Linked DNA regions of Homo sapiens. The protein of the gene in region 2 interacts with the protein of the main gene of each other region in a pairwise test. Each region holds a gene or a part of one and is shown on either strand. Other genes may lie near its edges.

Region 1 (4,081 bases), on a different chromosome or scaffold from region 2:
CCGATGTGGTGGCGCTCACCTGTAGTCCAGCTACTCCGGAGGCCGAGACAGGAGAATCACTTGAACTGATTCTCCTATCTCAGCCCGCCCCGCCCCCCCCCCCCCCCCCCCCAAGTAGCCGCAGCGAGCCGAGATGGCACCGCTGCACTCCAGCCTGGGCTACAGAGCGAGAACCCGTCTCTGTAAAAGACACAAGGATGCAAACCAACCAAATAACCCACTGTGGGATCCCCTCCAGCGTCCTGCTGTGTTTCCCGCTGTCTTCCTCCACCCGTGAGTGCACCCACAGCAATAAAAGCCAGCGGTGTGGGTCTCACACGCATCTCCAGCCCCGTCGCCATCGCGCTGAGCTCGACTCTTTTTACAAAAGGCCACTTGACATCCTCACTTGGCAGTTCAAAAGCCCCTTCAACCAGATGTGCGCAAGCCAAGCTCCGCAACTTCCCGTTCAGAGCAGGTTCTCGGTCCACCTCTGCCTGAATGAACCGGCGGGCTACCAAGGCCGCAGTCTCTTCCTCAAGGGCTGTCCACACTGGGTCTCGCTTTCTCTTGGAAATTTCTCTCCCACCAGGGAACTTTCTCCTCCTCTACCTCCCTGAGTCTCAGTCTAACAGCACCCTGCGCCCAACCCCGAGGGCTGCAATAGCCTTCTTGCCTCTCCTGACTTATTCTGCGGACCCTGGGTTGGCGCTCCTTCACAGCCAGGCTGGTCGTTTCTGAAATGTTAACCCGCTGCCGGACACCGTTCCACGGTTTTCCGCTGCCTTGGAACAAGACCAGCTCCTGCGCGGACCCTGCCTCCACCTCGCACCACCTCCGGGCCTGGACTTGGCCTCCCGTCCATTCCCAGAATGTGCCGGGCTCCCTTCCAGTCCGGGCCTCAGCACACTCTCTTCACTCCCCTTCCTCCCTCCCTGCCTCTCCCAACCCGGTTCAGGATGACTAATTTCAAACGTTATGTTCCAGATTTCAGCCCAGATATCCCCGCTTTGGATGCTTTCCTTGACCATGCTCAGATCTAAGCTAATCGCATCTTCCTGTCAGCCGCTTTCAGGGCACCACACCTCATTGTGCTGACACTCAGAGGTCATTATGCAATTTTTTTTCCTCGATGATTAGATTAATCAATCAACCACGGACGTCTAGAAATGGCGGCATCTCAGAAGGGCCCCCATTTGACTGGCAGGGGACTGGCCCAATGCGCCTCGCAAGCCCAGCCAGGCCCGCCCCAGCCGGCCCCCCTCTGACGACGCCTGTCCCTTACGCGACTGCCTTGCTGCCATATAAGAGGGACGGCGCTCGGCCTCCAGCAGTCGGCTTTCTGCTGGGCTCGGAGCCAGAACCTGCTGCGTGCTCCCTCCAGACTCCCTGGCTGCGGGTGGACTACCTCAGAGCTACAGCGGTGAACCTGTGGACACCTCCGACTCCTCGGGCCTCTCTTCGTCGAAGAGTCTCCTAATTTTCAGATCTCCGGAGCCAGCTGTGGGAAGATCAGGTGTGTGTCTGGGGGTCCCGGAGGCGTGGACGGATCTCGGGTGGGTGCAGTTGGGGACAGAATCCTCATTCCCCTAGAAAGGCCACGGCCATCCCCCTGCCTTGTCACCTCTGTCTTCCTAAATCCGTTCTTGCTCTCTTGTTTTTCTCCCCAGCCCCTCCCGCCGATTGCTCATGGAGGAACCAAGGCCTTCGAAGCGACTTCGCTCCATGGCCCCTAATCAAGGTACATCAAACGCCTGCCACTCCTCTCTTTTTAATTTCGTCTGTTCCCCAATTCTTCCCCAATGGTTGACACTCAAACTCAATCAAGCATTCTCTGTTTCACCTTCTCCTAGCCTGCCTCAACCTGGGCTGCTTGTTGGAAGTCAGCTCCCGGGTTCCACATCATCTGGGAAATTCCTTTCCCTCTTCCGAACCGTAATCCCATTTCCCAAATCTGAGATTTGCTGTTGTTGTCGCTGTTTCCTTCTGTTTAGTTTTGTATTACTGTTTCTCCGTAGCAGAGCGAGTCCTCACGCTACGTCTTGATCTATGATAAACCGGTACTTCCACCTTGTTCTTTCCCGGAGGAGTTGGAATTTTCCGGCTGTTGCCACGTTGTTCTCCAAAACTTTTCCCTTCATACGCTGAGTGTCCTAAATCTTTTAATCTTGTCTAGTTTGACAGATGCATAACAATAAAGCATCCACTGAAAGGAAATTCTTTAACATCTTGCTTGTCTGAAACATCTTCATTCTCCCCTCCCAGATTCTTCAGCGAAACTTCGGTTGGACAGGAAATTTTAGGTGGGAAATTCATTTCCCTTGAAATTTCGAAGACATTTTCTGTTATGTTCTAGACTGAACTGCTGCTTTTGAGATGTCTGACTTTTGAGACATGTGGAATCCTAGCCCTTTCCATGTGACTTTTCCTTTCTCTGTCTCCCGCTCTCTAGAATCTGTTAGAATCTTCTCTTTTTCCTCAGCACTCTGAAATTTTCTGGTGAAATGTCTCAGCCACAGCATACCTCTAATTCTCTTATATTTCATCCTTCTTTCCATCATTTTAGGTTTTTGCTTTGTTCTGTGGGAGACCTTCTCAACTTCATTCTCCAACTTCCGTGGAGAGTTTTGTTTCTTCTCTCACAATTTTAACTTCAGAAATCCCTCTTTTCTCTGAGTATTTATTTGTAAAAGTATCCTATAACTGCTTGACGGGTGAAGTTCCTTCTGTCTCTCTCTGCTCACGCTCCGCTTCTCTTTTAGCCTCAGGTGGGCCTCCTCCAGAGCCAGGCTGCTGTGTTGCGGACCCTGAAGGCTCCGTGGAAGCAGATGGGCCCGCACAGCCAGCCCAACCCGCAAAACCCATCGCTTACGTGAAACCCTTCAGACGGCAGCCCCCAGCTCGCCCAGAGTCACCCCCTCCTGCAGAGAGAGGCCGGCGCCGGGGAGGAAGCCGGCGGCCAGGGCGAGGCCGTGGCAGAAGGGCTGGGCCCCGCGGGGACGCTGGCCAGAGACAGGGGGCAGAAGGCTTGATGGCACCGGACGTGCACATCCAACTGGACCACCATGGAGAGCCAGGCCACCAGGGGGAACCGGAAATCACGGAGACCGCAGCCTTCTCCCTTTCTGAAACAGGTCCTCCGCCTGGAACTGTGCAGGAAGGCCCTGGCCCCGACGTGGCGCAACCTGAGCTGGGGTTTCAGGAGCCGCCCGCTGCTCCTGGGCCTCAGGCTGTTGACTGGCAACCCGTCTTGACCCTCTATCCCTGCATCGGGTTTAGGGCTCTGGGTGACTCAGCGGTTTTACAAGTCATTCAAACCCCCCAGGGCACCTACGTGCAAGGGGTCCCAGTGTTCCTCACCGACATTGCGTATTGACCACTATCTGCCACCCACGTTGTTCCCAGCCTCCCTTCCTTCCACCTGGACGTTCCCCCCAGCCCCACTTCTGCTCCACTCCTCCCCCGACTGGACCTGAAGCCTGAGCTTCCCCTGAACTTGGAGTACGCAACTTACAACATGCAAGCTGCCAAACACCCTTTCTGTACAAGGCGATTGGAATGGAACTGTCATGTACAGTGAAAGTACACGTCACGTTTTTCAGCCAAGAAGAAGCCAACCCAGACAACCTGGAAGAAGTGGGATGCAACAAGGATCACTAAGCATGGAAATTAGGAAACTGTATTCTTAAGTCCAGAGAAGTACGATTCTGGAAAAAGGATTGATGACCTAGAATTAAAATTCCAGAAGACACTCATATAGACATGTGGGACATGCGAAAACTCAGAAGGAGCTAGAAGTTACTAAAGTGCTTCTCTAGTGCCTGGAGACGATAGACTGGCTGAATATAAGAGCAATAAAAATCTAGACTGACACATTTTTAAGTCTCAACGTGGGTACCCTTTGGGAACCACTAAATGAATTGGAATAGAAGGTAAAATTTCAAACAGATTGAGGAAAAAGGGGATCAAAGGACATGTGACGAATCAGACAAAAGGTGTTGGGGTGGGGGGGGGGGCGGTTAACGGAAGCAAGGAGAGTGCATGACTCACTGGAACCGCTAAACCAGGAATCAGTAATTTGACGGCAGTGTCCTTGGCTTCC
Region 2 (3,500 bases):
TGTTTTCCTTTGGCCCCGACTCCGACCAGGGAAGACTGCGCGAGATAGAGAGGCAGGGGGCAGGTTGCAAAGCCCCCTCCCCCATTCAGACCTAATTGGTATGGTGACCCCTCTTTTCCCATTTTCTGGGGCACAGGAGCTTCAGAACTTCTACTTTCACTGTTCCTGGACTGGGGCTTGGTTTCCTGACTTCATGGTACAGTGGGTAAAGGCTAAAAGTAAAGGGGGCTTCTCCAAGGCACCCTGGGATGGCACAAACCAGCAGCTGCCACGAGTCCATGCCCTGCTGTGGTCCCAGATCTGTGTGATGCCTTATCCTTAAGCACAGCTTGCCAGCCACAAGGTTCACCTGCCCCTGTGACGGGGGTGTGACTGAACCACAGCATGTTCCTACAATCAGACTTATCACGTTAGGACACAGGGCCCCACTACTCAGTAAAAATCAAATACCCATGCACATTGAAAACATTATCTGATGGTGAAATTATTTCTATAAAACTGCATTTTTGGTTATAGTTAATATGAGTTCCTAATAGGTTCAAATGTTTATAAACAGATTAATGGATTTATAATTAAGTTCAAAAGAGTTACCCACATTGGCAATACTTAGAAAATACTAGTGTTAATCACAACCACAATATGTATAAAAGTGTTCTGGGCCCTTGTTAACTCCTCAAAGCAATGAGGAGAATGACTATACATTTTGTATATACATACATAATGCTTGGCAGAGAAAAAGATAACTATTGTGAGACAATACAAGCTAGTTAGGAAAAACAACACCATGAATGGGGCTGAACTTCATCGCTTTAGCTTTAACTGTGATTTAGAAATTTCCTCAGACCATTAGTTTGACATTTATTCCACGAGTACTTGCTGAATGCCTACTCTGTCCTGCCACTGAATGAGGCATTAGACAAAACAGATAGTCTTTGCTTTCATGCATCTTACAGCTGAGAAGGGGAGGGAGTTATGTGTGTGATAATTTGATAAAAATCATCTAATGGATACTACTATCTAAATGCACACCACTAAGTGAAAGAGACCAATCTGAAAAAGCTACATCCTATATGATTCCAATTCGATGACATTCTGGAAATGGTGAAACTATAGAGACAGTAAAAATATCAGTGGTTGCCAGAGGTTAGCGGGGAGAAGGAGACAAACAGGTGGAGCACAGAGAATTTTTAAGGCTATGAAAATAGACTACATGATACTATAATGGTGGCTACATGTTACTATACGTATGTCCAAACCCACAGAATGTACAACACTGAGAATGAACCCTAATGTAAAGTTTGGACTCTGGGTGATGTGTCAATGCAGGCTCATCAGTCATAGCAAATGTACCACTTTGGTCGGGGGGATGCTGAAAATGGGGGAAGCTGTGCATGTGTTGGGTGGGGGGTATATGGGAAATCTCTGTACTTTCCACTCATTTTTGCTGTGAACATAAAACTGCTCTAAAAAAAAAAAAAGCATTTTTTTTTTTTCTTGAGGTGGAGTCTTGCTTTCTCGTCCTGGCTGGAGTGCAGTAGCGCAATCTTGGCTCACTGCAACCTCTGCCTCCCAGGCTTAAGCAATTCTCCTGCCTCAGCCTCCCAAGTAGATGGGACTACAGGTGCGTGCCACCATGCCCAGCAAAAAATAATAAAGGTTTTTTTTTTTTAAAGTAATATTAGTTTATTTATTTTTTTTTGAGATGGAGTTTTGCTCCGTCGCCCAGGCTGGAGGGTAGTGGTGCCATCTCGGCTCACTGCAAGCTCCGCCTCCCGGGTTCATGCCATTCTCCTGCCTCAACCTCCCGAGTAGCTGGGACTACAGGCACCCACCACCACGCCCGGTTAATTTTTTGTATTTTTAGTAGAGACGGGGTTTCACCATGTTAGCCAGGATGGTCTCGATCTCCTGACCTCGTGATCCGCCCGCCTCAGCCTCCCAAAGTGCTGGGATTACAGGCGTGAGCCACCACGCCTGGCCAGTTTATTCTTATATAGTAGAGATGGGGTTTCGCTATGTTGGCTAGGCTGGTCTTGAATTCCTGGGCTCAAGCAATCTGCCCGGCTTGGCCTAAAGTATTTTTGAAAATCTATTTAATTGCAAACTGTGATAAATGTTATGAAGGATAATTAACAGGTGTTACTGAGGTTGCAACAAGGGGAACTTGATGCGAATGGGAGTGGAGGAACACTGCCATGGGTCCCTAAAAGTGGTATTTTAAAAACACAACAAAATATGTACAATTATTTGAGCACCACTTGCTGACACTGGCGTGAGCTGTATGGAAAAGATAGGATGGCTGGTGTGACCAGTATCAAGCTCTGGGTGCATAAAAATGCTGCAAATGTTGATACCTTCCAACATTCTTTAGAAGCAAAAGACACATGGCATATGTAGGCATGTGTATGTGTACATACAGCATACATACTTTTGTTTGACCCAGAAGCTAGCTGGAGTTGTAACCCTGCCATCACCACTGCACTTAAGAAGCAGAGTCCTAATGGCAATTAAGAGGATTTTTGCTCATATCCATGAAATGTGCCACTGCCCCAAAGTACTTAGAATACTGCTGGGCACATAAGGAAGCACTGAGTAAGTGTAGGCTACACGATCTTCCCTCCTTTCTTACAAAAGCATCAAGTAACTTCTACAGAAGGCCCTCTTAGGAACTCAAGAGACTGGCAGACACAAGGGCTACAGGCACTGTCAACATGTGGAACTGTACAATACTACCATAAGGAATCAAGACCAGAAGGCAGGAAGTTATTATCATTCTTACCTTTGGGTCATCTCCAAACTGGCCAAATTGTACATCATTTAATAAACTACGAGCTGTTTTGATGATATCTTTACATTTTTTTGGTGTTTCTTCTACTTTCCCAGCCAGAAAGAGGCAACAGGCTCCTGTCACCTAAAAGGGAAACAAAAGTTCTTGATTTTTGTTATCAAAGGTCACACAGAAATAGATACAATAAATTTTGGCCTTCGTAATAAACTGGTCTTCCTCATTCCCCTACCTTTCTTTTTATCATTCACAAATACTCCGATACTCTAGAAGCTTGAAGGAAATTTTATACATATAAATCCCCCAAACTCTAGCTTCATAAATTATTTAAAATTTAACTTTCTTAAAAAAAAAGTCATGTAAACAAAGAAAATGCCAAAAAGGAAAAGAGTCACATAAATAAATTTTCTTCTCATATTCCAATCTGAAATTAACTCCCTAAACAGCAAGCTTTGCCGTGGAAAAAGAAAGAGCACAACTAAACACAGTCCCGCGGAATCCATCTCAGCAGCACTGCCCATGCTTCCTTTTCCTTCTAGCACAGTCCTGTGGAATCCATCTCAGCACTGCCCATGCTTCCTTTTCTTTCTGCTATGGTCTGAATGTTTATGTCCTAATTCATAGCTTGAGACCTAATTCCCAAGGTGGCGGTATGAAGAAGTGAGGCCTTTGGGAAATGATTCTGAATGGGATTACTGCCCTTATAAAAGAGGCC

What was found.
Region 1: the proteins of CCNK (region 2) and PRR20C interact in a two-hybrid assay, tested with the Homo sapiens proteins (one large-scale study listed by BioGRID).

Annotation. Positions count from the first base shown.
Region 1 is NC_000013.11:57,152,780-57,156,860, forward strand, and holds the start of PRR20C (proline-rich protein 20C), read left to right. Parts: upstream 1-1,281; 5' UTR 1,282-1,495; intron 1,496-1,649; 5' UTR 1,650-1,668; coding exon 1,669-1,720; intron 1,721-2,741; coding exon 2,742-3,355; 3' UTR 3,356-4,081.
Region 2 is NC_000014.9:99,494,909-99,498,408, reverse strand, and holds part of CCNK (cyclin-K), read right to left. Parts: intron 2,912-3,500; coding exon 2,780-2,911; intron 1-2,779. UniProt on the Homo sapiens protein: Regulatory subunit of cyclin-dependent kinases that mediates activation of target kinases.